3 linked regions of the Homo sapiens genome follow. The protein of the gene in region 3 purifies or fractionates together with the protein of the main gene of each other region. This does not show direct contact. Each region holds a gene or a part of one and is shown on either strand. Other genes may lie near its edges. The genes, in order: AHCYL2, AHCYL1 and PITX2.

Region 1 (10,458 bases), on a different chromosome or scaffold from region 3:
GTAAAAAGTTTATTCCCCTTGTGTGGCTGAGCAGAGTAACAAAACTAAGAAAACTGATGATATGTGAATGAAGTAAGGAAAACCATCTATGGAAATGTGACTTAAAATAAATGTTTATACATGAAAGTTAAAAAACAAATGCAACAGTCACCAGTTCCACAGCCAAAGGCAGCTATTTCAATACTAGTATTCTCAGTTCCTTCATATGCTATAAGAAAAACAGTAAGGAGTCAAGGTCAAAGTGGTTATTTACATAGACAATCTAAGAATCAACAAAGGCTCAACAAATCAAAATGTCACACTGCAGTTCCTTGGTGAGATGACTTTCAACTTAGGGAAAGGGCAGTCTTGGGCACTTATTTTGATTTAGCCAATTCAATATCAAGAAGGTTAAAGATTGGGCACCTGAAAAGCAGCTCAGCAATGCCCTGAATTTCGTCATCCAGCTGTATCCTTGCCCAGAGCTTCACCTGCTTAACTTTCAGCAGAGAAGTTGTTTTTTTGGTGCAATTAACATTGTAAGGCAAGCTCAGCCCTGCTTTACAATAGCCTTGAGGCTGCTGAGTATATCTACAATCATGGAACATACATTTGGTGCTGAAAAAACAGGAAGATGGTTCAACGACAAGGAAAGTGGTCAAGAAGCACATCTAGAATTAAGAAAAACAGACTCCAGTATGCTGGTCTTTGATTTTTTAACTTTTTTTTTTTTTTTTTTTTTTTTGAGACAAGGTCTCACTCCAGCACCCAGGCTAGAGTGCTCATTGCAGCCTCAACTTCCTGGGCTCAGGTGATCCTCCCACCCCGGCCTCCTGAGTAGCTGGGACTATAGGCACACACCACCATGCCCGGCTCTTTTTTTTTTTTTTTTTTTTGGAGAGAGAGGTTTTCACCATGTTGCCCGGACTGTTCTCAAACTCCTGGACTCGAGCAATCCACCAGCCGTGGTTTCCCAAAGTGCTGGGATTACAGACGTGAGCCATGATTTTTTAATTTCTTTATATAGAATATATTGAACTGTGTGTAACTTTCAGAGGTGGTCATGGGGGCTTGCACTTAAGCCATGATGGGAGGAATAAAATAAAATCAATTATTCATAATAATAAAAGCATTAGTAAGAATATCATTTAAGACTTTATGTGCCAAGCTCAATGCTAAACCTTTTACAAATATTTCTAATCCTCAATCATAATTAGTACTTTCATTTTATAGAAGAGGAAACTGATTTGTGTAATTTGGAAATTACCCAAAAGGTAGTAATGGGGGTACTAGGCTTCAAATCCAGGTCTGCCTGACTGTAAACTTCATGCTCTAAAAGCAATTTGTTAAACACTTTTAGCCTAAAGAAATCTAACCAAATTACAAAGTTTAGACAAAAACAGTCTTTATCACAAGAAAATGACTTAACGATACAAAGTATCTCAACAAGTCAGAAGTATGCTTTGGATTTCCAGACTCAGATCTAGGTACTCCCAGCACTGGTGCTGCTGCTGCCTCTCTTTTTTACTTTACTTTTTTTCTTTAAACCCATTTCTGCAGGATGCTGCCTCTTTCTACTCTAATTCTTCCCAGAGGAGTTTCATACTACAAACGACAAAGACATTGTCTAAAGCATTACAGAAATTCCTTCAGTCTTGCCTCTGACTTATCACCTAAATTTGTATCGTTAGGATGAAAGGATTATCCGCTATACCTTAATCATGACGCTATGACAACAAAAAGTTATGGTGGATCCAAGGTTCCAATTCAGCTGGTCCCACACAGTAAAACCAATGCACACTTCCCGTCTCTTTGTTGCTGTTCTGATAAAGCAATTAAAAACCATTCACAACAATTTAAAAAAAACATTAATCCCTGTGCCCATACTGTGTCTACGAAATTGAAGCTGTAAGCCCTTTTTATATGATCCACACTTCTGTCTTTTCCAATACTTGCCCTGTTTTTCTGTGCTGATTCAGCTTTAAGAGAGAAAGAAAGACAAGCTTTGAGAGAGACAGACAACTATGGATAGACAATGTACGGGTAATACAGGGCTATCATCCACCTAGGCAGTTACTTCTTGGTATTCTGAGACCTCCTCAAAACTGTCTGAAAGAAGCTGACGCCTAAGACCGAAAACCCCACAAAGATCGTCTTTCCCAAAAGTAGCAGCATTTCTTCCTATCACTTTCAGATTATAATAAAGCAATCAATAAGACATTCATTCTCTTCATACACAGCCTAATAATCCTGGTGACCAACTATACCCAGCAGGGAGGACAAAGCTCTTAACACGAAAGAGTGAGGAGAATCTCTCCATTACCCTTTTACATATTCAGGGAAGAGAGAATATCGCAGTCGCTGGAAATGAAGGGCACAGCATCGTGTTGCTGTATGGCCACGGTTGGCCACAGAAAGGCAGAAAGTCATCAACTGTATGGAAACCAGACAACTCTGACGATTTCTATGCAAGGTGACTACACCTTACTCGTTCTCCAAGTATTAAAGATCTTTTCATCCTTATTGCTGTGTGAACTCCCGTGAGCGGTAAGGTTTTTCTATACTATCGAGGTCTCTTCCCCGATAGGCTGGAAAATCACACCCGGGAGCGTGTTGGGGCCGCGGGACGTACTATTAGGTGTCTCTCCTCCCGCTGCCTATTCCAAGTAGTAGGGGAGAGCGCTACCTCCATGTTATTCAGAGCGAAGTACGGCCGTGCCTCCTGGAGTCTCCGCTCCCAGCACGAGGGGCCGGCTGGGGGGCATCTCTGAGAGAGTGGGTTTAAGGGGACAAGGGGTATCTCCGGTCCTGCGATCAGAAAGGAGGGCGTGGAGGGTGGTGCCGCCGTGCCGAGAGGATCTGCAGTTCCCCTCCCCTCCCTTCCTCTCCTAGAGAGGCAGCCCGGCCCCAGTACCTTCTTGACTGTGCGCGGCGCCTCGGTGACGGTGCCGTCGGGGCTGACCAGGGCCTCGCCGCCGTCGCGGTGCCGCTGGTGCTGGTGATGTGGGTCGCTCCGCTTCATGGCCGACGCCTGAGGCACCTTCCCGGCGGCGGGGCTGAGAGCGGCGGCGGGCCCCGAGCCCGGGCCGGGGACCGGGGGCCGCTCCGCGGCGGGAGCTGGAGCCTCAGGGTCTCCACCGCCCGCCGGGGGGGCCATGGCGCCCACGGCGGCCGTGCTCAGTCCTAGTTGCGACTCCGCCTCGGAGGGGCTCAGGTCCTTCAGCTCCACCTCAGGCACCTTGGCGGCAGCCGCGGCTGACACAACCTGCACCGACATCACCGCCTCCGCTGCAACCACCGGCTCAGACTCCAGCTCCTGCTCTTGGTCGGCCCCGCCTCCCACCTCCCTTCCTCTTCCCTCCCCCATGTCCCCACTCCTCCCCTCCATCGCCTCCTCTCCCACCCCCTTTCTCCGCCCGCCAGTCCCGGCCCCTCCAGCCCCGCCCCGCCCCGTCCCGGTCTGGCCTCGCGCGAGGCGCCACGGAACCTGTAGTGCGTTTGCTCCCGGCCGCACGCGGCGAGAAGACCGTGGGACCTCAGGCCCCGACCTACACTGCGCGCCCCATGGGCGGGGCCCGCAGCGTCCCCTGGGAGTTGTAGTCCTTTCAGCCTTTCCTCCACTAAGTGAGATTCAGCCGAGGAGAGGGAGCGCTAGGGCCGGCAGCTAACAGAAAGGAGTGAGGATAGGTGACTCGACGGAGGGGATGAGGAAGAGAAAGTCTCCAGAGGAGTTGTGACTTCCGGGGAGGGAACGCCAAGAAGCCTTAGGGGAGGGGAAGTGGTAGAGGAATGGCTCGTTGTCCTGACAGCGTGAAGTTCCTCCGCGCGTGCCCGTCTGCGATCACGTGAGCGAGTATTTAAAGGAGAAGCGGCGGCTCCAGGCTGGAAGTGGCTTTATTTTTCTTTGTGATATTGAGAACTCAACACCCTTCCAAACTTCAGTGGCTTTGTTTTTAGAAGGGATAAAGTAGGACCTTGCTTGCTGTGGCGCTTTCTGTCACATTCTGGGTTTGGAAGCTAAGATCATTCCTCAAAGAAGTTAGGTATCACTAGATCAAAATTCAAGGCTGAGGAATTACACGTTGCCTTAAACGAGGCCAAATCTTTTCACCTATAATTCTAATAGGGCAATCATCTGAAATTCAGATACATATATCAGCATAGAGGGATATGAATAGTGAATATGAGTAGTTAATTTCCTAAGTGATGGGATTTAAGGTGATTTTTACTTTGTACTTTTCTGTATTATTTTTAAATTTTACATTTAGAGGATGTAAGCAAAAAGACATGCACCGCAGCGTCCTTTTTAATAACAAAAAACTGTCTAAAACTAATGTCCAACAAATAGAGCAATTGTTACAGCCTTTGAAAATCGTTTGCCAGCTGGGCATAGTGGTTGACGTCTGTAATCCCAGCACTTTGGGAGGCCAAGGCCGGCAGATCACTTGAGATCAGGACTTCAAGACCAGCCTGGCCAACATGGTGAAACCCCATCTCTACTAAAAATACAAAAATTAGCCAGGCGTGGTGGCGGGCACCTGAAATCCCAGCTACTTGGGAGGCTGAGGCAGGAGGATCGCTTGAACCTGGGAGGCAGAGGCTGCAGTGAGCCAAGATCATGCCACGGCACTCCAGCCTGGACAACGGAGTGAGATGCCGTCCCAGAAAAAAAGGAAGAAAGAAAGAAAATTGTTTGCCAATACTTTTTAACAACAAGGTTTTCCCTTTTTCATTCTTTACTCTGAAAGCCAAAATGTGAAGAGGAAGCTAAGAAACTCTTGTGTCTGGTACACTTGTGAGCTCTGTGGAAATGGCAGTGCTCAGACGCCTTCCGATACATAGTGTGAGGCACAAATTTGGCGATCAGGAAATGAGAGACTCCAAGGCAGGACAACTTCACGAAGTGAAGATTTCCAAAATCGTAATAGCACAGGAAAGAAGATCAAGGCATTCTGGCTTTCAGAATAAATGCTTATGATAAAAACATTAAGCTAAGAAGCAAGAGACAAAATTGCACATGCCATAAGATTTTATGTAAAGAATACTTTAAAAAGCCTGTAATCCCAGCACTTTGGGAGGCCGAGGCAGGCAGATCACGAGGTGAGGAGATCGAGACCATCCTGACTAACACGGTGAAACCCCGTCTCTACTAAAAATACAAAAATAAGCCGGGCGTGGTGGCGGGCGCCTGTAGTCCCAGCTACTCGGGAGGCTGAGGCAGGAGAATGGCGTGAACCCAGGAGGCAGAGCTTGCAGTGAGCAGAGATCGCCCCACTGCACTCCAGCCTGGGCGACGGAGCAAGACTCCGTCTCGTAAAAAAAAAAAAAAAAAAAAGAATACTTTAAAAAAACAAAATGCAGTTGACTCGCGACAGATTATGGGGGGGGTTCCTCTCTATGCTCAGAGAAACAGGAGCAAAGGGGTTCATACAGTTTACAGCTGTTTCAGAGACTTACAGCCCTAACAACCCAGGCAGCCACTGGACAGCTACTCTTTAGACATCTAGTCTTTGGTGTCACTGTGTTTTGCCTGGCAAGGAGAAGGAAGGAGGCCAGGCATGGTGGCTCACACCTGTAATCCCAACACTTTGGGAGGCCGAGGCGGGTGGATCACTTGAGGTCAGCAGTTCGAGACCAGCCTGGCCAACGTGGTGAAACCCCATCTCTAATAAAAATACAAAAATTAGCCAGGCGTGGTGGCTTCTGCCTGTAGTTCCAGCTACTCAGGAGGCTGAGGCAGGAGAATCCTTTGAACGCAGGAGGTGGAGGTTGCAGTGAGCCGAGATTGCACCACTACACTCCAGCCTGGGCAACAGAGCAAGACTCTGTCTCAAAAAAAAAGAAGGAGAAGGGAGAGAAATCACCTGCCTCGATCTTCTTTCCTGTCCTACTATTTTGGAAATCTGTTCACTCTGTGTGGTTGTCCTGCCTTGAATGGAGGCTCTCATTTCCTGATCTCCAAATTTGTGCCTCACAGTACATGTCGGAAGGCATCTGAGCACTGCCATTTCCACAGAGCTCACAAGACACAAGAGATTCTTAAGTTTTTTCTTCACATTCCGGCTTTCAGAATTTCCTTCCTGTTAAAAAGAAACCAGCCCAGAGCTTCATCCTCCAGCTGTCGGAGCAGAGATTAGCAGCTCTGTAACTGATTTCATTCTTCCCCCTAATGCTCAAGGGAGCTACGGTACAGCCACCTGGCATGTGTTGGAGCTCATAGGCAGCAGCTGCCTACCTGCCACTAGAATTGATTACTGAGAGGATGAATTAATTCTTCAGTGTGATGTGGTTATAAAATATAAGGAGTTAGAGCACTGGAATGAAACTGATACCCTGTTTTATTCCAGTCACCACCACTGATTGGGGCCAACCATCAGGACACATTCTTCAACCTGTTGTCAACTCCATCCCTACATACCTGCTGCTTCTGCCATCCTTGTAGCTGAGGGACACCAGGTACAGTTGAAGATCAAATTACATACTAGAAACAGGGTAATTAAGCACCAGTTTATGAACTATTTAATGAAATATTTGGACTACAGGTCTTCTTCCTTCACCCGGCTCATTCAGCTTCCAGAACGCTGGCAAGCAGGAATGTAACGTCCATGCAGGACATTGGTATAAAAAAGAATTTCTTTTTTTCTTTTTCTTTTTTTTTTTTTGAGATGGAGTCTCGTGCCATCGCCCAGACTAGAGTGCAGTGGCATGATCTCGGCTCACTGCAACCTCTGCCTCCTGGGTTCAAGCAATTCTCCTGCCTCAGCCTCCCGAGTAGCTGGGACTACAGGCACGTGTCACCACACCCGGATAATTTTTTGTATTTTTAGTAGAGACGGGGTTTCACCATGTTAGCCAGGATGGTCTCAATCTCCTGACCTCGTGATCTGCCCGCCTTGGCCTCCCAAACTGCTGGGATTACAAGCCTGAGCCACCGCGCCCGGCCAATAAAGAAGAATTTCTTGGCCAGGCACGGTGGCTCACACCTGAAATCCCAGCACTTGGGAGGCCAAGGCGGGCAAATCACGAGGTCAGGAGTTTGAGACCAGCCTGACTAACATGGTGAAATCCCGTCTCTACTAAAATACACAAATTAGCTGGGTGTGGTGGCACACGCCTGTAGTCCCAGCAACTCGGGAGGCTGAGGCAGGAGAATTGCTTGAACTTGGGAGGCAGAGACTGCAGTGAGCTGAGATTGCGCCACGGCACTCCAGCCTGGGCAACAGAGCAAGACTGTGTCTCAAAAAAAAAAAAAAAAAAAAAGAAGAATTTCTCTGAGGTATCTGACCAATCCAAGAGAGAAAACAAAGATACTAACATTGAGAGTTTCCAAAGGAAATAAGCCAGCCAGATCACCCGCCCTGAAGACCATACTCATGTTCACAGAGCTTCCGTGAACAATTTAGTGTCACATTCTTAAGTATGAACAGACAACCAAAGTCACCAGACATATGAAGAAAACTTTGGTTTTTTGTTTCGAGACAGAGTCTCACTCTTGCTGCCCAGGCCAGAGTGCAGTGGCATAATCATAGCTAACTGCAACCTCTGCCTCCTGGGCTCAAGCAATCCTCCCACCTCAGCCTCCCAAGTAACTGGAACTACAGGTTTGCACCACTACACCTGGCTAATTAAAAAAAAATGTTTTTGGTAGAGTAGGGCTCTTGCTATGTTGCCCAGGCTGGTCTCGAACTTCTAGTTGTTTTTTTTTTTTTGGAGACGGAGTCTCGCTCTTGTTGCCTAGGCTGGCGTGCAGTGGCGCAATCTCGGCTCACTGCAACCTCCGCCTCCCAGGTTCAAGCAATTCTCCTGCCTCAGCCTCCCGAGTAGCTGGGACTAAAGGCACCCACCACCATGCCGAGCTAATTTTTCATATTTTAGTAGAGACGGGGTTTTACCATGTTACCCAGGCTGGTCTCAAACTTCTGAGCTCAGGCCATCTGCCTGCCTTGGCCTCCCAAAGTGCTAGAGTTACAGGCATGAGCCACCGTGCCCAGCCTGTTTTTTTGTGGTTTTTTGTTTTTTGTTTTTTTTTAGATGGAGTCTCACACAGTTGCCCAGGCTGGAGTGCAATGGCAGGATCTCGGCTCACTGCAACCTCCGCCTCCCAGGCTCAAGCGATTCTCCTCCCTCAGCCTCCCGAGTAGCTGGGATTACAGGCACGCATTACCACATCCAGCTGATTTTTTTTTTATTTTGAGTAGAGATGGGGTTTCACCATGCTAACCAGGCTGGTCTTGAACTCCTGAGCTCGTGATTCACCCACCTCAACCTCTCAAAGTGCTGTGATTACAGGTGCTAGCCACTGTGCCCAGGCTTGCTTTCCTTTTGAGCAGCGGGGAGAGTGGGGTGGGGTATTGGTCAAAGGGTACTTTAGCTAAATCTGTTATACTTTTCTTTAAAAAAAAAAAAAGATCTGAAGCAAATATGATAAAATGATAAAAAGTTGATAATTCTGAGTGGTGGGAATATGAGTGTTTATTAGGTTGTTCTTTGTACTTTTCTATATCGTTTCAATTTCTTAAAAACAAAAGTAGGCTGGGCATAGTGGCTCATGCCTATAATCCCCACACTTTGGGAGCCCAAGGCAAAAGATCACTTTGATGCCAGGAGTTCAAGACCAGCATAGGCAACATGACCAGACCCTGTCTCTAAAAAAAATTTGTTTTTAATAACATTTGTCTGGCATGATGGTACATGCCTGTAGTTGTAGCTACTTGGGAGGCTGAGGCCGGAGGATCCTTTGAGCCCAGGAGTTTGAGGCTGTAGTGGGCTATGATTGCACCACTGCCCTCCAACCTGGGCAACAGAGCAAGATTCTGTCTCTAAAAATAAAAATAAAAAAGCAGGCAGAGGCTGAACACGGTGGCTGATGCCTGCAATTTCAGCACCTTGGGAGGCCAAGGCAGGAAGATCACCTGGGCCGAGACCAAGTTGGAGACCAGCCTGGACAACATAGTGAGACCCCATCTCTACAAAAAATAAAATTAGGCTGGCATGGTGATGTGCACCTGTAGTCCCAGCAGCTTGGGAGGCTGAGGCAGGAACATCGCCTGACCCAGGAAATTGAGGCTGCAGTGAGCCGAGATTGCATCACTGCACTCCAGCCTGGGCAACAGAGTGAGACCCTGTCTCAAAAAAAAAAAAAAAAAAAAAAAAGAAGACAGAGGAACAACACTCCAGCATGGGCAACAGAGTGACACCCTGTCTCAAAAAAAAAAAAAAAAAAAAAAAGCACAGAGGAACAAAGATGGGCAGTGGACAGACTGCTTTAAGGAAGCTGGAACAAACAGAGGCAAGGCCAGCTGAATTTGAAAGAATGGTAAGAGGCCCAATGAGGCAGCTGAGGGCAGAGCCTGTGATGAGGGGCACGCATGGGGAGCTGTGTTTTCAGGGCAACAGCATAGCAGGGAGTCCCCCAAACTGGGAGTCCCACAAACCAGGCTCCCCTTGGATCCTGAGGGGTTTCTTTGGGGATCTCACTCAGGAGCTTTTGGTAGAAGGGTGGTTACTGTTGTTCAGTCCTGAGATTGATGCTCCCGTAGGGATACTACTGGAAGATTTCTTGGTTGTGGGAGTGTCCATGGTGCTGGACATCTGCATTCACAAAGGTGGGCTCACATTGCCCCCTAGTGGCCACAGAGTCTCTGCACAAATGTCACATTTCTCAGCTGTTTTTTTGGAGACAGGGTGGTGCTTGCTGTAGCCCAGCGCCCAGGCTGGAGTGCAGTGGTGCATTCTCGGCCAGCCTTGACCCTCGCGGGCTCAAGCAGTCCTCCTACCTCAGCCTCCCGAGTAGCTGGGACTATAGGCATGCACCGCCACGTCTGGCTAATTTATTTTTTGTAGAGACACAGTTTCGCCATGTTGGCCAGCCTGGTCTCAAACTCCTGGACTCAAGTGATTCTCTCGCCTCAGCCTCCCAAAATGCTGGGATTACAGACGTGAACCACAGTGCCTGGCCTATTTCTCAGCTTTTAAGGCCCAGATTGAACTCCCCTTTCACCCCATCTCCCATCCTTTACATAAGTAATCCCACTAAAGAAAGGATAGAAGGAGGGAGGAAAACTAGTAGTCAACTGTCTTTGGAGATGAAAAGAAGAACATTGTAACACTCCCCTTTGTTTCAGAAAAGATCCTTAAACAGCACTGATAACTTTCATTATTTTAAATACTGTTGTTGATAAAGGCTAAAAAATAGCTGTAACAATGCTAAGGGAAGCAGTAACGGCCGGGAAGAACAAGAAGAGCAGGTGTAAGAGGATGTGGGATGGCCAGAGGGAACATAAACCAGGAAACCTGGATAGAGAGAAAAATCAAAGGCGGGATTAAGCGTGGAAAGAGCCTGGACACTAGTCAGGAAGAGCCTGGACCTAGTGTCTGTCACTCACTAGCTGCGGGGTAGCAAGCAAGTCATTTTGCTTCACTGAGCTTATATTTTCCAATTAAAATGGCAACAACTGGCTGGGCTCAGTGGCTCACGCC
Region 2 (10,866 bases), on a different chromosome or scaffold from region 3:
TACAAAAGCTAATTAATTTGCTCAAGGTCATATCCCTTTAGTTGACTTCTCGACACCCAGACATCTCAAATCTTCAATCAAACCAACAAGTCCTATTTTGTTCATAGCAGTGTGATAGACCTTGGCATACAAAACTGAGTAAGTCATGATTATAGCTGAAGAATCTAGATATTTATGCTTTTAATTGATGGACATCCACTCTATCTCAAACAAAGCAAACAAAATGAATAAAAGCTGACTCTGTCTCAAACAAAGCAAACAAAATGAATAAAAGCTGACCAGAAAGTGACACTGGGATCTGATCTAACTGAGGACCATCAAGGTCACCCTGAAGTAACCTATATCCTCTGGCATCAAGAACATCCTCAATTCCTGAGGGGCCTCAGGGCTTCAGAATAATCCAAGGATTACTGGTCTAGAGCCAGGGTAGAATTCTCATAGGTGAAGGACTGCACCATTTGAAGAGGTCTTTTTCTCACACCATTAAGTACCATGCCAAGTTACTTTTTTCCCTCTTACTTTTCCCATGCTTTCACGTTATCAACACATGGCAGAGGTACAAAAGTGACTTAAGTCTTAATGTTCAATTCAGCAGTTCTGAAAAACAGATTGCCTAGGACTTGCTATGTGACCTTGACTAGTCCTCAACTGATCCATTAACTTAATAAATGTCTTTTATCATCACTAGGGAAAGGGTAATTAGTCATCATGAAACACTTTATTACAAAGTACTACGTAAATGCTAAAGAATAAAACTTAGAAGAGAAAGATTAATAAGAAACACGGTGGGGCACATTTACTGGTAAATGGAAACTTAAAACAGGGTCTTCCCACATTCCTGGCAGAGCCTGCTTCTTTTAGCTAATGCAATATAAGTCTAAAATCATCAGCACTTGGCCTGACAATAATACACATTAGTAATATTCCTCCTGGGAAGAAGAGAGGAAAAGGGATAGTTATTCATGGTAGGTGGCCACATGGACATCTCAGTTACTAGTTAGCCAGGTGAGCAATTAATATTTGAGTACCTACTGTATGCTGGGTACAAAGCTAGGCACACTGGATACAAAGGTGAACAAGAATCCCTGCCTTAATGAGTTTTTACAATCTACGATATAGACTTTGTCTTATCAACAGTGGTACTTTCAAGAATACAGATTTACTAACATAAAGGCAAGTAACAGCAAAGAAGACAGAGTCTGGGAAATTCAGGTATTAGGGCTTTCCCATTCTTTCCTCTAACTCATCTAAGGTCCCACCCTCAATCATTCTGCTTATAAGGACTGTGACTGTTTCTCCAAAGAATAGTGCAGATTGCAAAGGGTCATTGTCCCAACAAAGCAGTCAACTGAACTCTCAGCACTAAAGTTAATCAGATGCCTCAGAGTCAAGGAATCTTCCACAATCTTTTAAAGGAATTAAATTCTTAATTTTGTGAGAAAACAGCGAAAGCACACAATGGCGACTCGTCTTTTTTGATCTTGCATTTGATTTCTGGAGTGGCAGGTTAATTCACTTAAAAAAAAAAAAAAGAGCCATCTCTCCCACTTAAGACAGCTTAACTAGTTGAAGCCTCAAGGACTTAACTATTCCTGCAGCCCTTGCTTTGTTCAGCCCTGCATCCCATTAAACACTGGATGCAGGCAGAGACAGCTTTGTAAGACTCTGTCTTTATAAAGAAGGGAGACATTTATCTGGGTTCTCACTGGCTTCAGGAAGGTCACCTCTTTGTAAAGGTTCTCTGGTCTACTGCTAACTGGGTGCCAGGTGTATGGAAAATCAAGATGTGGTTGGCAGTAAATGATGAGAAAGCAATAAGGATCCCAATTCCACCACTCGGAGAGCTAGTCAGACTAAAATCTCCAAAGGTTGCCATTTATGAGAGAATTCGAAGGGTGTCCTTTGAGTCAACCTACAGCACAATAGATCAAACTTGTTCTGCCTCAAAAGTACAGTCAAGAGTGAGCAATCTTCCCTTACCACCCACTACTCCAACCCACCCAAGCTCCTTTCTCCAGGGATGCCTAAGTGATCTATTCACATGACTCTAGGATCCACCTGTATCCATGACAGTGTCTGCTGTCACCAACCTCCAAATGTCAATTTCTTACATATTTCGAAGTAATTGGAATGCTGTAGAAAGTGAAAATCATAGATTTTCAGTTTCATGTTACCCTCATCGCTTTCACCTGTATATCAGAGCTAGCTTCACGCATTCTTTTCTCTTGCCTCCCAGCTATCACGCAGTTGTTGGATAAAGCGGCCACTGCTCCCAAAGATTTGATGGAAGTTCTGCCAGATTTACCCACTCACCTGAAGGGAGATTTTCTGTACACCCCATGCCCCCGGACTGGTCACAAGGGTCAGCTGAGTTGGTTCACCCCCTCCCACTCTCGTCTTCGAGGCCCTTCATCCAGGAAAAGTCAGTCGCAAATTTAAGGCCTGGCCCTGTCGGGTTTCAAAACGATCCCGGAGGACTTGGGCCGAGGGACAAAGGAAAGCGAGGTCAGAGGCGGCCTTTCAGCCCGGGAGAGGCCTGGGGCCGCACAGCCGCCACCCCCTACATCACCTCCGCCGTCCCCAGTCACCCCCAGAAGTCCCAAACTAGCCAGAGCCCGGGCTTGCTCGCGTCCCTTCCGCGAGGCCGGAGCCCGAGCCCCCGCCGCCACCCAGAGCCCCCGCACCTTCTTGGGCGCCTTGGTGACGGTGGCCATGAAGGAGTACTTCTCGGCGTCCTCGATCTCCTTGGCCTGCTTCAGCTCCTCCCCGACCCCGGGCAGCGGCATCGCGTCAGGCATCGACATTCCCCGGCCGGCCCGGCCAGCGGCTGACCCGCCGCCCCCGCCTCTTTCCCCCTCTGGCGCCCGCCCGCCTGCCCGCGCGGCGCCCTCCGACACGCGATCGCCCACCCTCCTGCCGGCCCCTGCGTCGAGCTGCGTCGGCTTCTGAGGTGCTGTGGCCCACGCCTTGTCTGTTCGGCAGCCCAAGGCAGCCGGACAGCGACGGCGGCCACAAGAGAACCAGAACAGCAGCTCCGAGCTCCGACCTGCCCGCGCCGCCACCTCCGCTGTACGCAAACACGCACGCAAAGCGAGGGTAGAGGGCGGTGACGCCACGTCAAGTACTGGCAGCTCCCGGGAGGGGGAAGAGGCGGGGAGAAAGGGCACTCTGTCGTGACGTCACCACGCTGGGCTGGGCCACAGAAGCCGTTCCTCTCCCGCTCGAGAGCGAAGTTCCCAGGGTGAGCAGGACCCTTTGTGCCACCAGGTGGCACCATCAGCCCTGGGAGCAGCGCGAGGTTCATGCAACGATGCTGCGGAACGGAGGGTCTTTGGGCTGCGGGGTTCCTGGCAAGGCCTCAGAGGCGCATGAAAGGGGTGTTTGGGAGCAAAGACCAGAGCCCCACACGACACATCCTACAGCGATTCCTAGGAAATGTCCGGGGCTCGAGACAGCCCACTCACTCACTGGCCCAGCCCCAGGCCCTTTGGATTAAAGCTCCTTCCCAAGGGGCCGTGCCTGTCTTTTTGACTTCATAGGGGGCAGAACTGACTCAGAGTAGTCTGGTTTCTGCACAACGCTTTGTGACTTCCTCCACCACCATCTCCGACTGGGCCTTGCCTGTTTACAAAACCCTCATTGGGATAGGGCTGATGGGTATGAGGGTGGAGACCAGGAGAGCTGATGGAGAAGTCCCCAGCCAGAATGGCCTTCCGGTCCTTGCTCCACCAAAGCATTAGACCCTTCCAGCTCTCAGTGGGCATCCAGGACATTCATGGACTGCTCACACCCTTTTACTGGGCCTACTATGTGCAGTGCCTGTGCTGAGGCCCTGCTGGCAAAAGGACATGTGACGCATTTTATGTTTTGCAAGGCTTAGTTCAGCTGGAGAGGCAAAACCTGCTTGTATCCTAATGTCAGCTGAGGTAGCTTGTCCTTTGAGATTCAAATGACATTGGCTCCAATTACCATGTCCTGTGGAAAGTCCATTACTGGGAGGACTTGGATTTTCATGGTCACCTCTGGCTCTAGTTTTTTTGCCTTGTCTGGCATTTTATTCACTATTCTGGTCTTGTGACTGTTTCTGTAGCTCCTGGGGTCAATTCAGCCGCTTCTCCTTTCAACCCCCACCCCATGCTAAACAACTACAAAATAAGGCTGTAACATGTAGTAAAACTTTTAATAAAGGTTTGTGGGTCACAGGGGAGAGATTACATCACACAGCAAACAATTTAAGAACACATTTCTGAAATGTTCTGAAAAGTTATTTTGGCTGTCTTACCACCCGGGGATTTCTCAATGGCCACAAGATCCCACCACGCTCCCTAGCCCATTGCCATCTAATCTAGCTTCCTCCTGTTCCTCCCTTCCCATCTCTGCACCTCATCCTTCCTTCCTTGATAGACTCTGGGAAGCCAGATTCTCCTCTGCTGTGCTGAGCAATTCCAGTCTTCCCAGTGCCCTTTCCCTAAATTCCTCCCCAGGACCACCTTTTTTTTTTTTTTGAGATGACGTCTCGCTCTGTTGCCCAAGCTGGAGTGCTCTCAGCTCACTGCAACCTCCGCCTGCCGGGTTCAAGTGATTCTCCTGCCTCAGCCTCCTGAGTGAGTAGCTGGGACTATAGGCGTGCGCCACCGTGCCCGGCTAATTTTTGTATTTTTAGTAGAGACGGGGTTTCACCATCTTGGCCAGGCTGGTCTCGGATCCTGACCTCGTGATCCACCTGCCTCGGCCTCCCAAAGTGCTGGGATTACAGGCGTGAGCCACCGCGCCTGGCCAGGACCACCTTTTAACATCCAGAAACCTCCCAGGTTTTTAACAGGGCATACCCTTTCAAGAAGGAAGTTTTGGTTTGAAATGGCATTTTCCCCACTGATTTGTGTTCAGGGCTGGGGAGAGTGTGAAATATTCACCTCTAGGGCCCTAAAAGTCTTAGTCAGGGAATCCTGTGTTCCAGCCACCTAGCCTCATGAGACTGTCTGTTTGAAAAGGGCTGTAGAAGTGCCTGGAAGAATGCACCCTTTGCACATCTGCAGACCTTGGTCTTGAACTGTTTGTATTCTTTCATCTGCTCACTTTTTTGAGCACTCACACTTCCCTGTCAGGGGCATCACTGTAGCAGAACGGGAACAGAGATGGAGACCAGAATACCAGGTTCATCCATGAGGGTGCCAGACTGACATCTTTCAGCTAGGGGTCAGGAACCACACCTGGTGCACTAAGGACTCTCTGAACATAAGGCTCACAGTGGCTTTCATCCTTGTGGGTTTGCCCAAACTGTTGGCAGAGCCCAGGGATCAGAGATGCCTGCCCAAAGACTCGAGGCAGAACCCATTGGAACCAGGGATGAAATCTCAAGTCCCTATAGTAGAAAAATGTGTGACTTAAGAAGATCTTTTTTTTTTTTTTTTTTTTTTTTTTAAAGAGAAGCATCAGTGTATCTGTCTTTTGGATTTGATTTTTAGAACTCACTTTGTCTAAACATGTTGTCTCTCAGTCCCCCAGTTCTGCTGTGCATTTAAGCATCCAGACTGTGAGCTTCCTGGAGATTGAAGTTCAGTCTTTACTCCTCCTGGACCAGGTCTGCCCTAGCACCAGGCTCACAGTGTTGTCTGCTATTGCTGCTGCTACAGAGGATGACAGACAGGGCCAGGCCTAGAGCATGCAGTACCTTAGCAGTCTGGGCTAAGAAGGAGATCAGCAGGTCAGACTCCACTCACCTGAGTGGCTGGCCTGAGGGGAGGTTGATGAGCTGATGTAGGAGAGTTCGGGGACTCAGACTGGAAAGGGGAAGGGCAGCACCCCCTACCCTGGTGGAAAGCATTAGGCCTATGTGGTTCAAGTGAGGCCAGGGGCCCGGGACATTCTTGGAAACCAGCCACTGCAGGGGGCATGGGTGGCTGCCATCCCTTCCATCACGTGTGTGCTGGAGAGCAAAGAGCTCACCCAGCCAGGGAGTGTGACAACATAACATCCGTGAGAATCATTGCATCCTGTCTCCCACCCCCAAAACCCATCCTAAGATAGCCTCACATGGCACAGCTAAGGCGATTGCTTCTCATGAATGCCAAGAGATGACTTGTCTTCAGCCTACCCACCCACCTGACTCAGCACCTCTACTGGCAAGCTCACTGCCCTGAACAGCGCATCCACACACAGGTGAGAGACCCCCCACGGGGCAATTGGAGAAGAACAGGGACCCAAAGACAGATGCACCTGCTGTGTGTGGTGGTGGGAAGTCTCCAAGGGCCTGGAGCGAAGACCCTTGCTAGAAAGGAGTGGCCTAAGGGCAGTGGTGAATTGGGAGATGCTGTCACCAGAAATGTAGTGGCATTGGGCTACCACACGTGGGCTTGGTCTTGTTAATCAGATTCACTGTTTGTCCACCCCCAAATTGATGTTCTACATTCAGTCATTTGTTCTTTTATTTATAAAATATATATTGAGTGCCGAAGAAGTGCCAGCAGCAGGGCTAGATGTCAGTCGGGACTACAGAGATAAATAAGCTGAGGTGCTGATCTCTACGTGGGGACAGGTGATGGGGGTGGGGTGCAGTGGAGGGCAAAGGGATGACACAGAGGGAGATGCTGCCAGAGCTGAGTCTTGACAGATAAGCAGCTGGGCAAGGGAGGGAAGATTCTCCAGGCTGAAGAAACAGCCTGAGAATAGGCATGGTGATGGAAACAGCTTGGCATATTACGGGAACTGTAAATATCCCCATGTGGGTGGGGCACAGGGTGCAAAGCAGGGTGAAGTGAGCGCTGAAGCCAGGGCCAGATCCTGCAGGGCGTGTTAAGCCCTGGGTGGGTGGTGGTGATGTCTGCCATGCTGGGGAGCACAGGAGGAGAAGCAAGTGTGGCTAGAGGGGTGGAGGGGGGCTGCTGAGAGGAGTCAGCTTGGGACATGTTGAGTTTGATATGTCTGTGGAGGGCACTGTCCCTGAGTCTCAGGGGAGCCCAGGTTGGCACCTTTTGGAACTGCCCGCTCCCTGCCAGTCAGGCTCCCCACCAGGGGGAGGCTGTGCTCCTCCTGAAGGCCTTTCACCTCCTGTCGGCCAGGTGTTATGTTAGCCCTCTGGAATGAAAGTGCAGAAAAACTGCAGAGATCTTGGGTGACAATGGAAGTTCGGAAGAAGGTGAAGAGGGCAGTGGCTCTGTCTCTAGCTCTCCAGCATGGGCAAACCCTCCAGCTCCAGGCTTCTTTCTGTCCCAGAACTGCTACCTTGCACAGCTCTAGGAGGCACCACTGACATTGTAATTATTGTGAAAGGTGCCCTGGAGCACCACTTCAGATTGGTCACCTACCTCGCTGGCCCTTAGGGACCCCCAGAGGGTGGGCTCCCGGTTGCACCTCTGTGGCTGTGGGTGCTGGTCCTCAGGCTTCCTGGCTCCTACTTCCCACCGAGCTCCCTCCCTCCCTACCCTCAGCCTTTTCTCCTTCCCCTTCTCCAGTTCCAGTGGGAAAACATTCCTCCTTCTCTGTCTCCCCCTCTGCTTATTATTGTCATATTTATTAGGATCACTTACTCTTTATTATCATTTTGAACATTATAGGAAAGAAAAATCCATGAAGATTTTTTAAAAATTTCTTTTCATCTTGTTAAGTTCACTCCTAGTTCTTAGCAATTTGCAGAAACTCATTTTTACATACCTGTGATTGGTAGGTTCATGTCCTTTTGTATTCTGCTTTGATCAAATTACAATATTTCAAAAACACATGACCCGAACGGAGAGCATTGACATACTTGTTATTATTGTCCATGTTTTCCAAGCTTTCTGTCATATTGCTTTATGAGTTTGCTTAACTGTTTTCCTATTGTTCGGTATTTGAATTGTTTCCAACTAGTGCAATATAATGGAATGGAGGGAGGTGGTTTCGGAGTGGGTGTGGGGATGGCTTTCAAGCAAAACAGGCGAAGATGGGTCACAGCACCAGCTCCTGCCAGAGAAAGGGAGCAAAAATGTAAGTAGTGGGGGCAGTTATAATGACTGTAAACAAGGACCAGGATAAGGAGGCACCTTTTGGCCCTAGAGGATCTGAGGTCCTGTGTCTGGAACTCGTGATAGCTGACTCATGGCGAGGCTGCATGGTGTGAGGAAGCAGGAAAACTGGGCAGAGATGTGGGCTCAAATCTTCACTCTGCTACTAACTTGGCCACTGGCATCCTGGACCTTTTTTGACCTCCTCTTCCTCATGCAAGACAGGTTGATAGCTCTCCATCTGGGGCTTGTAATGACCTAATCCAGTAAGATCATAAATATGCAAAAGCTTTGAACAAGTTGCAAATATTGTGCAAATGTAAGGTACTAAGATGTGGGTCCAGGCTAACCATGGAGGGCAAAGGAGCTATTGTTGAGAATTTGGAATTCTCTCTTCGCTCCGCTTCCCGGAATGACAGGAATAAGCAGAAACCCGTCTGCTGCAGGAAAGGATTGTCATTGCTGGTTTTGAGTACTTGTTGACATGTGGATGTGTTTCCTCAAAAGGGAGGGCTGACACTGCCCCAGCCATGAGAAATTGCTGCTTTCCTGGCCCAACCTGGCCCCGGGGTCTGGCTGTGTGACCAGCAGCCCCTTGGAACTTCCTCACATGCTTTTTTTCTAGGTTGGACCAGAGATCCTGATGTATCTTACTTCAGTTCCCAAAGCTGCCACACATTAAAGTTCATACTGAGAAGGCATCCACCAATTGTAAACAATGTTCAAGAAATCTGTTCTGATGACTGTTTGTGCTACTTTGTATGTTTTTTCCTGCTCTTAAGTGTGTATATGGGAGCGGGGAGGATGGAGGTGGGGATGGTGAAGAGTTTACCAAAAAAGTAGAAATTGTGAAACTGGCCTTGGACTTTGGCCTCTGCCCAGTCAGTTATTTACTGAGCATCAGCTTTGTCTCGGGAGCTGTGCTGAGCGCCAGGGATCCCACAGTAAACAAGACAGACACAGTTCCTGTCCTCATGGGGCTTAGAGTCCATAGCAGAGCTTTGTCAGAAAATCAAGGTTCCCAGTACTGTCTGAGAGGGCACACCCTCTCCTTGCTGTCTCCATGTGCCCCACCCTGAGCGGTCTTCCAGAGTGTGTGGCATGCTTCCTCTCCCTGCTTCTGAGGCTGTGTCTAGCCCCATGCTAGGGAAGGAAGAGCAGTCTCTCTCCCGAGTTCAGAGATGCTGACCCACCCTTGAAGTAGCCCCAAGTCTTTTAGAAGCTTCTGGGATACTGCTTCCCTGGCAGATGTGCTCCCCCAGGGCAATGGTGAGTGGGCTGGTGAGATGTAAGTGTCAGCTTCTGGGATAAGGGAGGACACTGCCTGTCTTTGCCTCTCCCAGGCCTGCCTCTCTACCCATAACCTGCAACCTGCCTCTAGGACTGGAAATAGTCCTGGAATCGCAGAGACACAGGTGGCCAGGATGGTTTGATATCCTGGTGGGTACTCCTTCAGGATGCCTGCTGGGGGCTAGTAGAGGATTTGTCTTGACTGGAAAGGCTCTGGGGCTGATGGAGTGGAACAGACAGAAGCTGCCATCTCCCAAAGCTCAGGTGCTCAGGGTCTTGCCCCTTTGCCCTGAAGGGCCCGGCCTGTGGCTGGTTTGCTGGAGCCAGAGGAGAGTGGTCGGCTGCTGGTGGTGCGGAGGCTGCTGCGGGGTGGGAGCCTGCCTTCCTCACCCTCTCTGGTGTGCAGGGCGGGCCCCATTGCATCACCCTTGGAGTCTCTGCTCCTGGCTTTGCAGCCAGCTGGGCCCCTGGAGGAGGGACTCTCCCTGTTTTTCAACAAACCATTAACCATTTCACCCTCTCAAGCCCTCCCTGCAACCAACCTGGATTCCCAAGGCTGCTCCTCATGCCTCTCAACCCTGGTCTTGAAAACCTCCCTTCTCCTCCACGATTCCAGGAGCTCTGCCTGGACAGCCTTTTAAGGGTTGAAGGCTCCACATGCACAACGCAAGCCTGGCCTCTTCCCCGGGGAAAGAGTTAAGCCTTGTCCTCCACACCCTCAGCATTTGTCCCATTCTGCAGCAGTGAGGACAGAGCTCTTCAGCCTCCAACATGAGCTCATGCCACTTCCACACTTCCACAGAGTCCTGACGGAGGGTCAACACAATATTTTAGACCAACGGCAACGATGGATCTCATGCCAGAACCAGGAGCTTGGACCTTGGCCTCTCCACAAAGGCCCTTCAGCCATTTCCTGCAGACCCGCTTGGCCCTTTGACCTCTTTATAGGGGTTCAGGGAAGGAGTGGGTGATGTGAGGGCCTGGAAGGGCTCAAGAGACTGATGGAAGAGAGTCGCAAGTACACAGTGTTTCCCTGTTTCTGTTCGGGCTAGATGAGGAGACATCAAGGGGTGGGGATGGAGAGGCTGTTCCAGTCAGTGAAGCCCAAGCCTCATTCCCGCTCGGGTCTTTTATCTCCCAACCCCAACATTCCCTTCATCGCCCCACCCATTCCAGGGCCTGAAATAGCCCGAAACTTCATCCAAGCCTAGGCCCAGGTCCCAATTTTAGTTCCACAAACATTTGGCTGCTCCATAGCTTGCAGGATCCTGAGCTGGGTCCCGTGGCGGATGCAGAGATGAATGAGGCCCAGCCCTTGCCTTCAGGGAGCTTGCAAAATGTGTCCAGATGACTGCAGTCAGAGGCGGAAGATGCCCGTGGAAGAAGAAAGAAAGACGCTCCCCGTAGAGGGAATGGGGCAGGCTTGTGAAGGAGAGTTGGTTTTGTTGAATCTTAAAGGATGACTAGGATTTCAAGAGGCGGACATGAGGAACACTGACTTTAGATGGAGGGAACAGCAAGAGCAAGAATATGGAGGTGTGAAATGTAGGGTATGCTCTGGAACATGGCCAGCAATCTGGTTTGACTGGAGCACATG
Region 3 (10,649 bases):
TCGACAAGCAGCCGCCCTGGAAGGAGAGGCAGCTGCAAGGAGAGCCCAGCGCCGCGGCTACAAAGCACTAGGGTGGAGCTGCGGAATAGCGGGCGGGGTGGGAGGGCGTTTTCGAAGGATCCCAGAAAACCCATAGACTCTGTCTTTAATTACTTGCCATTTCTACCCTAGGCCATCTAAACTTTGCTCAGGCGAGAAGAGTACGTGAGAGGCCCGTTCCCTTGATGTGCAAGAGAGCTAATGAAAGACTGACCTTGCTCAAAACCACGCCGCCCAGGACCCAGCTCTGGCTCTGGACAGTTAAACTAAAACCATTTTCAACTTCTTCCCGGCCTTTTATCCACCAGCATAGCCTCATGCCTTGCACAAATGCCACCCAGAGAGTGTCTTCATTCCCTCTGATTTGGGAGAGCATTTTGGTCTTTATTCTTTTTATCGTTGTTTTCTTCTTTTTGTTTGCTCTGCTCTAACCGGGGGCTTTATTTTTTCTACCCAGAGCACTTAATTTTTTTTTTTTAACAGCAAAGCCTCTGGATGCCGCTTGATTTGCTTGATTCTGTTTTCTGCTTCCAGAATCCTAACAAATTTGGAATCTTCCACCGACCAGCATAAACCAGGACGTTGCTATTGGGTTATTTATTTGAGCTCATTTTTGCCAATCCATAAAGTACAGATTTGCTACAAAGTTAAGGTAAGCCCTTTTTACAAAACTATGATTATAATTTAGAAGAGGGGGTGTGAGTTTCAATTTCCAGAGTTCAACTCCTGAGAGAAGATAAATAAACCAAGCAGAAAAGTCTTTCTTCTTTTTTTCTTTCTCCTTCTAAGAGGACTAGTAGTTGTGTATTAAAACTTTGCTCCCGGAGATCACAAAACTAGGAAATAGGGTGTGTGGGAGAGACCTGAATGGCCGAAACAACCGTAAAGAAGGTGTAAGAAGCGCGAGCCCAGGAGGGAAAAAGCTGGGCCAGGGCCGGGACAAAGGTTTCCCAGGGAGGGCCAACTCTTCCGTGTCTCTGGCGGGTTTTCCTTGTTAAAGGCTCACAGGTTGGAGCCTGTTCGCGGCTCTTGGCCTGGTAGGGATTTTATTAGCTCTGCTCTGGCAACTGCAAGCCAGGAACACAATGTCCTGTGCAGGGGATTGCCCATGCAGCCCAGCTCGTGAGATCGCGGGATGGCGGGGCAGTGAGCCGGTGCCGCTCTGGGAGCCTGAGCCAGGGCGGCAGTCCTGTCGGCCTCGGAGAGGGAACTGTAATCTCGCAACCAGGCCGCCGCGAGGCCTTCTGCCTTTGCAAAGCTGCGCCCCACCGGCGCCCTCCCAGGCGGCGCTGCCTTCCACATTCTCTCCTGGTCTACTTGGCCTGTACCTCCACAACATCCTCCCCCCATCCCTCCCAGACTCCGTGCTGGCTCCTACCCGGACTCGGGCTTCCGTAAGGTTGGTCCACACAGCGATTTCTTCGCGTGTGGACATGTCCGGGTAGCGGTTCCTCTGGAAAGTGGCCTCCAGCTCCTGGAGCTGCTGGCTGGTAAAGTGAGTCCGCTGCCGCCTTTGCCGCTTCTTCTTAGACGGGTCCTCGGCGCCCACGTCCTCATTCTTCCCCTGCTGGCTTTTATCTTTCTCTGAAAACGAAACACACACACTTTCCCGTCAGCATGCCCACCTGCAACGCGGACGCCAACTGGACCGGCGGCAGAAGCCGTGGAAGAGCTGGGCTGCCTGGCGCCGGAGGAGGGTGCGCGCGGCGGCTCCGGGCCGCGAGGAGCGCTGCGCCTGTGGGGTGTGCAGGCGCAAGTGTGGGTGTCCGCGCCCCATTTCCTCCCCTCCCCCAGCGCCGCACGTTTTATTTACATGTTTATCTCACTGCAGCGGCACATTCACTTTTATAGCCTGTGCTTTCAAGTATATTTATACACCTCTGCGCAGACACACCAAATCTCCTGGGACGCGCACACGCGCGTGGTTTACAGACCCCCCTCCCCCTCGCAGAAAGCTCAGATTTCCATGCGGTTTGGGAAGGCTAGGAAAAGATGTGGGGATTCGGTTGGGCACCGAAGTTCGCCGGCCCTTTCCCAAAAAAAAAAAAAAAATGCCTCTTCGCGAAGGGCATTTCTGAGTGGTTTCAGGCAATTTCCTAACGAGTGGAGCTCCTCGGGAGCTGAAAGCCGAGAGGAAAACAGGGACAGAGGTCGGCGGCCTCTGAAGGTCCTCGAATCAAGATGCTGGGATTTTTGTGACCCAGGAAACAGAAGGGAGGCCAGGGTACGAATAGAGAGGGCGGCAGAATTGCTCGCGCCCTTAGCGCCCCAGGAGCCGGGCCGGTCGAGGGAGAACTAAAGGGATGCGGGGTAGTCAAAATTCCGGCTCCCGGAAGTTCTGCGGGGAGCCAGGCGAACGACCACTCCCACCACGCCTCCCCCCGGAGGGGCTGACTTCCTTGGGGCGAGAGGGAGCGGGTGGCGCAGAGCAGCTGAGCGGGAATGTCTGCAGGGCGGCGCGGCGCCTTACCTGCGGCCTCCGGGCTGGAGGTGTCGGAGATGGTGTGCACCTCCAGCCTGTGCTTGGAGGAGTCCAGCGACCGGGGCTGACCGGGAGCCAGAACCGAAGCCATGGCTAACGGCTGGGGATGGTGACAGGAAGATGAGGAGACGGCCGACAGCTTGGTCCCCGCTGCTCGGTGCTCCAAGTGAAGCGGGCCTTTCATGCAGTTCATGGACGAGGGAGCGCGACGCTCTACTAGTCCTTGGCTACTGCCCCGCCGAGCCCCCGTAGCCGCCGCTGCCCGCTCCGGGTCGCGCTCTAGGCGCGGAGTTTCCCCGCTGCGGGGAGAGCCAGGGGACGCAACCCCCGCCGAGTTCTCAAGCCAAGCTGCCCCCGTCTCCTCCGGAAGGCTCAAGCGAAAAAGTCCGGAGACGGAAAGTCAGCGGGCAAACGAAGACATGGGATGTGGGCAGAAGGGCACCACTCAGAGCGTCTTTAGGGAGCAGGCTTCCAAGCTCCAAAGCGAAACAAGAGTGGGCAAAGACCCCCTTCTTCTCTCCCTCCCTCCCCCAAGAACCCCTCCAATAAGGAAAGCTAACGCCGACCGCGCTCTGCCCGCCCCCCCCCCACGCGGCAGCCCTGACAGAGAAGTGTCAAGAGTGACAGGGACAGGTAGGTGATATTAGATCCCCTGCGGCGGCAGCAGCCGCTGCAGCCACGACGCGGCCCTCTGAGCGCACCCTCCGCAACGCGCACACGCACACCCCTCGGGCGGTCGAACAGGAGCCGGGCCTTGCCGCAGCTCAGCTCCAGGCACCCAGGCGAGCGACGGACCAGATCTGCGGCTCCGCGCTTCCCTGTTGGCCTAACATCTTAAAACCAGAGGCGGGCTTCCTGGTGCCGAGACGTCACTCCGCCGCGGCCCTCCCCAGCCCTCTCCGCCTCCGCCTCCTCCCAGACCCTTCTCCGGGTGCGACTGACGTGGCTCCGCACCAATCAGGACGCCCCGAGCCGCGGTGGAGGGACTGTCCTGCCTGCACCTATCAGCAGTGCGGGGCCGGGCTACTGCCTCGCCGTGCGCACTGGGTCTACACAGGCAAGCTCCCGGGAATTCAGCTCCTGCCCAGCCCAAGGCGATCCGGCTTTTAGTACGAACCCAAAGGTGAAGAGATGAGGCTAGGAGTCGAAGGCTTGGGAGAAGAGAGTGGAATGGTCAAGAAGAGAAAGGTACAAGGATCAACAAGACACCCACTCTTTGTGTCTCACTACATCCATTTCCAATCCCCCACCCCATATAAAAAGGAGACACGTTACTTAAAACTAGAAAATTTGAAAAACAGCAACAAATCACCTCTCCGATCTTAAATTTTCCAAACAGCCTGTCAAGTGAATGCTGCGCTAATCTGAAGAAGCTTTAATTGCAAAGAAGACAGAGCCCTGAAAAGGCAGGCTAATAAATTAGAAATCGAGAAGCAAATGGACCCGTCAAAAGAAAATTACCTTGACTTTAAACGAACAACTGTTTGGTGGTTCACTCTGGATTTATACAAGAATAAAAAGTCGCCTCAGATCACGTTCTCTGTGATGCTTATTAGTCCCCAGACAGAAAACACACAATAGAAGAGAAACCCTAACCCAGCGTTTTCAAAATGCTGAAAGCTTATCCATTCTACTTAACGTTGATTAAGACACATATCCTAGATCTTTCAAATTCCTTGTACACTGTATTAAGCTCGTCCTAACCCGAGAGAGCCACGCTTTAAATTCGACTCTCTTGTTTACTTTATTATCAATCAGATTTAAATCCATAAAGCCTGTAGAATCAACAACCTTGAGCTAATTATATATGAAATATGCCTTAATGAATTTCCATACAATTAAGAATGTTGCCAAATAACCAATTTCAAGGATAATTTTTAACAGTCATTTTCTTTTCCCAGTGAGCTCAAGGCTGTCTTGAGCCATTAAAGTCCAAGCAGGCAGAAGGGGTGTGTGTGAGCTAAGGGCGAAAAGCCTAGAACTGCGCTCAACTAGCAAAAGCAAAACCTTATTTATATAAAACAAAAAAAATCACCTTTGGAGACATCAACTCTTTATAGCACTGTTTCCAAGCAAATTTAATTTCCAAAGAAATTAAAGAAAGAAATCCAAACATATTCAAAATAATTTTTGAAAGTCCTTTTGTCCCCCAGCATAGGTCAGCTGGAGAGGACAAACTAATCTCCTCTGGGTTTCTGCATGGGCGATTGTTTTACTATGGAGTTAGTGTTATCATCTCTGAATGTGTATTTGTTTGACATTACAGTCAATGATTTGCAATGCCAGCATGAAGTATCTTTAAAACACTCCCTCCTTGTCCTTGTTCACAAGATTGGGAAACTTATTCGATGTGGAACAAAGTGGATGAAGCAGACTACAAATATATTTGCAACTTATGTGTCTCTCCTTTGCCCTGACCACCCCCAAACCCTATCTGCAACTCCTCCCCATTTTAAACTTGCAGTCCAAAGACGCACATGAGAATTGTTTTTCAGTCTTTCTTCACCAGTATCATCCCACTTTAAGAATAATTTAGCTGCAAGGGAGGAATTTCTTCATAGTAAGCTTTAAATCAGCATTTCTGCTTTTAACCTTTTATTCCACTTTACCCCATTCCACACATACAGACACCTGCTCAGAGTAAAACACATCCTCATGTGACAGGTCTGCATTAGCTGAGGCTCATACATCCAGCTATATTAGGTCCTGCAATCTTATCACTAAATTATACACATTACACTAGCAGCCTGTTGGTAAAGAAGGTTAAATTAATTTACATTCTGCTCATTATCTGGTGCTTAAATGACGCATTTTATCCCGGAGATTTGGCGGAGAATCTCCTTCTCAGACCCCACAGCGTTTCACTGAAGACAATGCTCTTACATTTGTAGTGGTTTTTAATCTGATAAGACTCTAATTTGCTTAAGTCTTTTAAATAAGGGTTTTAAATGTTTCTAGCCGTTTTCTTATTGAATTTCCTCTAATTCCCCCAAGATCATAAAGTATATGTGTAAAGTAAATATTTCCTCCCATTGCACTGCCAGCCGATGACCTATAACTAAGTCAATAAGAATCCAGCTCTTTTCTGCTGAATGTGTTTACTAATCATATTCCAGTTTCTTCTTTTAAACCTCAGAATAGCTGTGGTCCCCACAATACCATGCCCCTTAAAGCTTCATTTCATGAAGGGACTCCATCACATTAAAGAATGAAAAAAATCTCCACTGTAGTTAGTATACACAGCCCCTCACTCCTTGTTTTTCAAGATTCAAACCCCAGAGCTGCAAATATTTTTGGAAGCTTGGGTGTTAATGCCTTATTTTAGAAAGCCGAGAAGCCCCACAGAGCCATATAGATTTCTAAACCCATCTCTCATAAACCCACAGAATTTTGATAAAAGCTCTGGTGGCTCCACTCTACCGATGGAACTTTCATCACGACAAATATACATGTATGAAGGACCTCAATCAGCCTCCAAAGTGGTTGAAAAACCCAAGGGCACGTGACTGCTCCTCATAGTGCCAACGTGTGCGAGATGTTGGAAGCACTGGGGATCAGCAGCAGCCTAGATGCCTAAAAAGATAAGGTGTCCTAATTTGTGTGGACCCATTGAAGTCAAGTGGTGAATAAAGACAATTATCTAGATAATTCAGATTAAAGTAAAAGCAAAACCATATCTATTTGTATATATATATTCACATCCATTTTATATTACAGACACACACACGCACACACACACTGGCTCTGTAAACAACTGACTCAAAGTGAGGATTTTCTTTGCATTTTTCCAGCAGGAGTTTCAACATTCTCCTAATCTCCTAATCACTTTACACACTCACAGCAGCGGCGATTGGGTGACATTCTTCTCAGGCCCCCTGTGTGGCAGGACACCAACATGATAAGTCTGCATGGGGAAAAGGAGGTATGTGGTGGGAACTAAGAAACACTGTCCAGTGAAAACTCTGTGGCATGGTGGTGGTTGATTTTGGAGATTTAATGTACATAAGACTTGTGGGTGCACAGGCATAGGCAGCATGGATGAGAAAGGGGCCAGAAGAAAATAAATCTTATGCATTTTGTGATTCCAGCATTACTGTGACCTCTGGCTAAGTTCTTCTTAATTGGTTTTAGAAATTACTATGAGTTCAGCCTCTAACACAGAAATTTCCAATACGGAGAACATTGGTGGGATCCTGGTAGGGAAACTAGAGGTGCTGCATGGCTCACGTGGGGCAAAGAAGGAAAGCCCAGTGCCGGCGTGAGGTTTTGAGTCTGGGAGACATCAGGGGTTGTCTCGATTGGGGTTTCTTGCTTATTCTTTCAAAGAAAGACCCTAGAGGAGGGAAATGTGTGACATGGGGTCAGCCGTGTTTTGTGCTGGTATTTGCCACCGATTACCAGTCTTAAAGTCTTATTTAATTTCACACTCTTCAGTGTTAGTTGTGCAAAGTCCCTCTGGCCATGGCAGTGAGCGGTTGGGCTGTGCCGCCAAACTCTCCGTATCAATCTGGCCTGGGACTCAACCAAGTGATCTCTGACTTTTGGAAAGAGTCTGTCTTCAGAGTTCACCCAGAAGATGGCTTAATTAGACATCTCCCTGAGCTGTTAGGCCTTAGACGGGTGGGAGTCCTGCCCTGCCCAAGCTAGCTCAAGGACGAGGCCCGCCTGGACTCAGCTTGGAGCCACGTGATGGGCGTGAGTGTGTGAGCTCCTGGTAAGGCGCAGAGGTCAGATGGAGACCTTGCATCCTGCCCGAGAAGTGCCCCACCCCCTCCAATATCTGGCTTTTCTCTGCATACAAACCAAGCTGAAAACAGTCCACTACCCACCACCCCTCATAGCTATGGAACCAAATAACCCAGAAATTAAAAGCTTCACTGTAGCTGTCCTTTTCCCCATTTCCTAAATGGAATTTAAAAAGCTCTGGCTTGTCAAAAGGGGAAGATTATTTTCTGAATTGGAAGTCTGTAGATATATTGAGCAACAGCCACCCTCTCTGGGTCCCTGCAAATGGTACCCATTTTTCCAACCCACAGCTCTAGCTGCTCAACCATTTGAGATTTGGGGTAACTACCTGGGGGAACAGTGTTCAGATGGCAGTGGGAGTTACCACCTCACAGTGGCCTGGGGAAGAGAAGAGAAAGAGATTAGAGGAGGGGGCATTTGCTAAAATCACTCAACGAACATGCTGTTAATGCTTCCTCACATTTGCATGTTACTGCCACAGTTTTCCTAGGTGTCACTGAGTCTCCAGAAAGCAACTACTTGCCGAACTAAGTAAAATAAGGAGAATGGTATAGCACATGTGTTTGGAGAAGGGGAAGGAAGGGTGGAATATGAAATTGAGCATAGATATCCAGGTCAGGAAAGAAGGAAGTGGCAAGGGGCTAAATGAAGTCCCACCCCCCCGCCACTTTTTTAAACAACAGTTGGATTAAACACTCATCTGTCTTCCTCTTTTTCTCTTTTCTTCCCTCTCCAGCTTATGTCCATCTCCCTTTTCTATTTCTTTTGCTCTCCCTTCTTTCTGTTTTCTCTCTCCCAGACATGCTGGTAGCTAACATTCAGCATTAGTTGTCATGGTGACCATAAATCACCTAAATCCAAAAATACCCACCTATAATCTGAGATGAAGCTTTTATTTCCCTAGCGAAATAATATTTTAAAAGCTGTCAGCTGACAAAAAAAAAGGAACCCACCTCATTGTAGTAACCCAAGTAATATATTACTTCTAAAGGTTTAAATTAAAATGTCAGCCTGTTAAAAACATGCTGGTAGAGTCTTGGACACTCTTCCCGTCAGATCCTCACAAAGAAGTTGACTCTGTCATTCCTGGTCGCTCTTTAACATACACACACAATTCTGTATGCTCTCTCCCTTTCTATTAATTTCTTCCTCCCCTACCAACTACTTTAGTTCTCAAAGACTCTACGCATTGGGTTCTAAAAGAAAAGAATCTCCTCCTGGATCAGAAAACAGCCTCATTGGTTGCTGAAGTGAAAGATGTGGGGTTTAGGGGGAAAGGTTATTAGGACCATAATGGCGGTGGTGGTAGGAGGTCATCCTAGAGGAGTTAAGAAGAAAAAAAAATGCAGGGAGAAGGACTGGAGGTGGAAAGACAGAGTAACAGAAAACTGAGCTGGGTGGTCAGGTGCTGCGGTGAAGTCTAGCCCCGAAATGATAGGTATATATTCTCCCACTCCTGCCTTTTTCTCCTCTGAGAGAAAACTTTCCTAGTCAGAGACCCTGGGGGGTAGGAGGCGGGCAAACGCCGCTGCAGTTGGGCCTTTTGTCTTCTACCTTGGGCTTGTTGTCTTTTGCCTATCTTGGATTACAGGGTATTCGCCTAGATGAAGAGCCATTAATTACCCATTCAGTCAATATTAGGAAGACGACAAAGCTTTTTACATAGGATTAAGAAGACATCAGATTGTTCCATTAGTATATTCCTGCTCACGAATAAGCTTTCGTTATACATTTCCTTTTCCCCCGAGCCGCTCTAACAACTGCTGCATATATTAGCAGCGGGCGGTGAGGAATAACAGCCGAACCAGCCTTAAGAAACTTTGTGTACCGAGTCAGCAGCGAGGAACGCGACCTGTGAAGACCACTTTTGCGGGCAGGGATCCGCAGGGACTGACTACTTTCGGACAACTGGTACAATTTCCCCTGGGGGTGAAAAACCACAACGCGGCGGGGCACCTTTCAAGTGAGCTGCAGATTTGATTGGCGCGGGGGGTGGGGGAGGGGAGGGGAGAATGGGATGGCGGAGGTCGGGCGGAGGAAAGAAAATGGAAAACTCTCCTTACCCCTATTTCGTTGCTTTTTCCTCAAGCCTCATGCCCCCTTCGGCAAGCACCTGTCCCTTCCGCGCTAGCCACAGCTAGAGTTCTCCACCTTTCTCTACACATCCCCTTCTTTCTGACAAGGCTCAGGACCTTGGTCACCACCCCACGCACCACCATTTTGCGTTTTGCTAGAGACGGTCTGGGCTGATCTCGCTGGTGTCCATGTTAGGATTAAAATCCCTTCATGACGGCGAGGAAAACTGTATTATTTGCTTTCAGGGGGTACATTAGGAGTCCACGTAGTATATGCTCCGCAAACATTCGCTGATTGAATGAGAGGCGCGGGGGCGGGGCGGCGGAGAGGGGTCTGCGGCCGCCAAGGCCGCCAGGGTTAACCCAGGTCCTTCGAAGAAGGTTGGGACCGAGCTGCTGCCGCGTGTGAAGGTGTGTGTCGCGGCTGGGGGTGCCACAACGGGCCATGGAGCCCACCTCCCAGAGGGAGGAAGTCTGTGCACACCAGCGACTTGGGTCGAACACTTTCAGCCCATCCACTGGGCCAAAGCTATTTAACAATTAATGCGTTCCTGGGGGAGGCCGGGGGAAGTACCCGCCCCTTGTCGGGACGCAAAGCCAGGCGTCAGGTCCAAAGGGGCTGCAGTGCAGTCCGATTTCAGCACGGAACCCAGAGCCGCCGCCCTGAAACTTTTTAAGCCAGTGACAGAGGAGGGTCAGTCCGTCCTCCTCCTGAGGGTGAAGACCATTTTATGAGTTCCTTTCAGGACCCCCAAAGCAAGAAAAGCCAAAGAAAGGTCTCTTTGCTCTAGGGGGTCGTTCTCAGCTGGCTTCTACACCATCTTCTGCTAGCTGCGTCCACCCTCTCTCAAACCTCTGGCTTTTAGGGGTCTCCAGTCGCTCTCGTGCTACCCCCGTTTCGGGGTTCTATCCAGGCTGGGCATCCGCCCAATGGATACCAAGGAGAATGGGACTCACTAGGGAAGGAAGGCAGAGCCTGGACTGCTTAGAGGTGGACTCTGCCTATACAGAACGTTTAGTCTTTAACGAGGACATGGTATTTTTGGGCGGCGTTGGGGGCAGAGGCGGAGAGGGTAGCGTAATAGACTATCACGGCCTTTTGAAGAAGTCATATGTCATTGTGAACTTTTTTTCTCTTTAAAAGCAAAGAAAAACTTTAAAAAAACACAAGAAATAAATCCTTTTGTTTTACAAGCAGGCTGTGGCCAGGACTTTGGATATTCCATAAGTTAACTTAAAATCAGGGAAGGATAGGTGCTCTATCCTTCAGCAGTGCTATAGCTTTGCCCACTCGTGTGATTTTTTTT

Evidence for each region.
Region 1: the proteins of PITX2 (region 3) and AHCYL2 purify together in Homo sapiens (affinity purification with mass spectrometry; 3 studies listed by BioGRID and IntAct, with this or other methods). This does not show direct contact.
Region 2: the proteins of PITX2 (region 3) and AHCYL1 purify together in Homo sapiens (affinity purification with mass spectrometry; 4 studies listed by BioGRID and IntAct, with this or other methods). This does not show direct contact.

Annotation. Positions count from the first base shown.
Region 1 is NC_000007.14:129,217,875-129,228,332, reverse strand, and holds the start of AHCYL2 (adenosylhomocysteinase 3), read right to left. Parts: upstream 3,304-10,458; 5' UTR 3,257-3,303; coding exon 2,894-3,256; intron 1-2,893. UniProt on the Homo sapiens protein: May regulate the electrogenic sodium/bicarbonate cotransporter SLC4A4 activity and Mg(2+)-sensitivity. On the contrary of its homolog AHCYL1, does not regulate ITPR1 sensitivity to inositol 1,4,5-trisphosphate.
Region 2 is NC_000001.11:109,976,991-109,987,856, reverse strand, and holds the start of AHCYL1 (S-adenosylhomocysteine hydrolase-like protein 1), read right to left. Parts: upstream 3,093-10,866; 5' UTR 2,805-3,092; coding exon 2,685-2,804; exon of another isoform or gene 2,314-2,684; intron 1-2,313. UniProt on the Homo sapiens protein: Multifaceted cellular regulator which coordinates several essential cellular functions including regulation of epithelial HCO3(-) and fluid secretion, mRNA processing and DNA replication.
Region 3 is NC_000004.12:110,619,747-110,630,395, forward strand, and holds the start of PITX2 (pituitary homeobox 2), read right to left. Parts: upstream 3,332-10,649; 5' UTR 2,715-3,331; coding exon 2,510-2,714; intron 1,888-2,509; exon of another isoform or gene 1,853-1,887; intron 1,624-1,852; coding exon 1,418-1,623; intron 1-1,417. UniProt on the Homo sapiens protein: May play a role in myoblast differentiation. When unphosphorylated, associates with an ELAVL1-containing complex, which stabilizes cyclin mRNA and ensuring cell proliferation.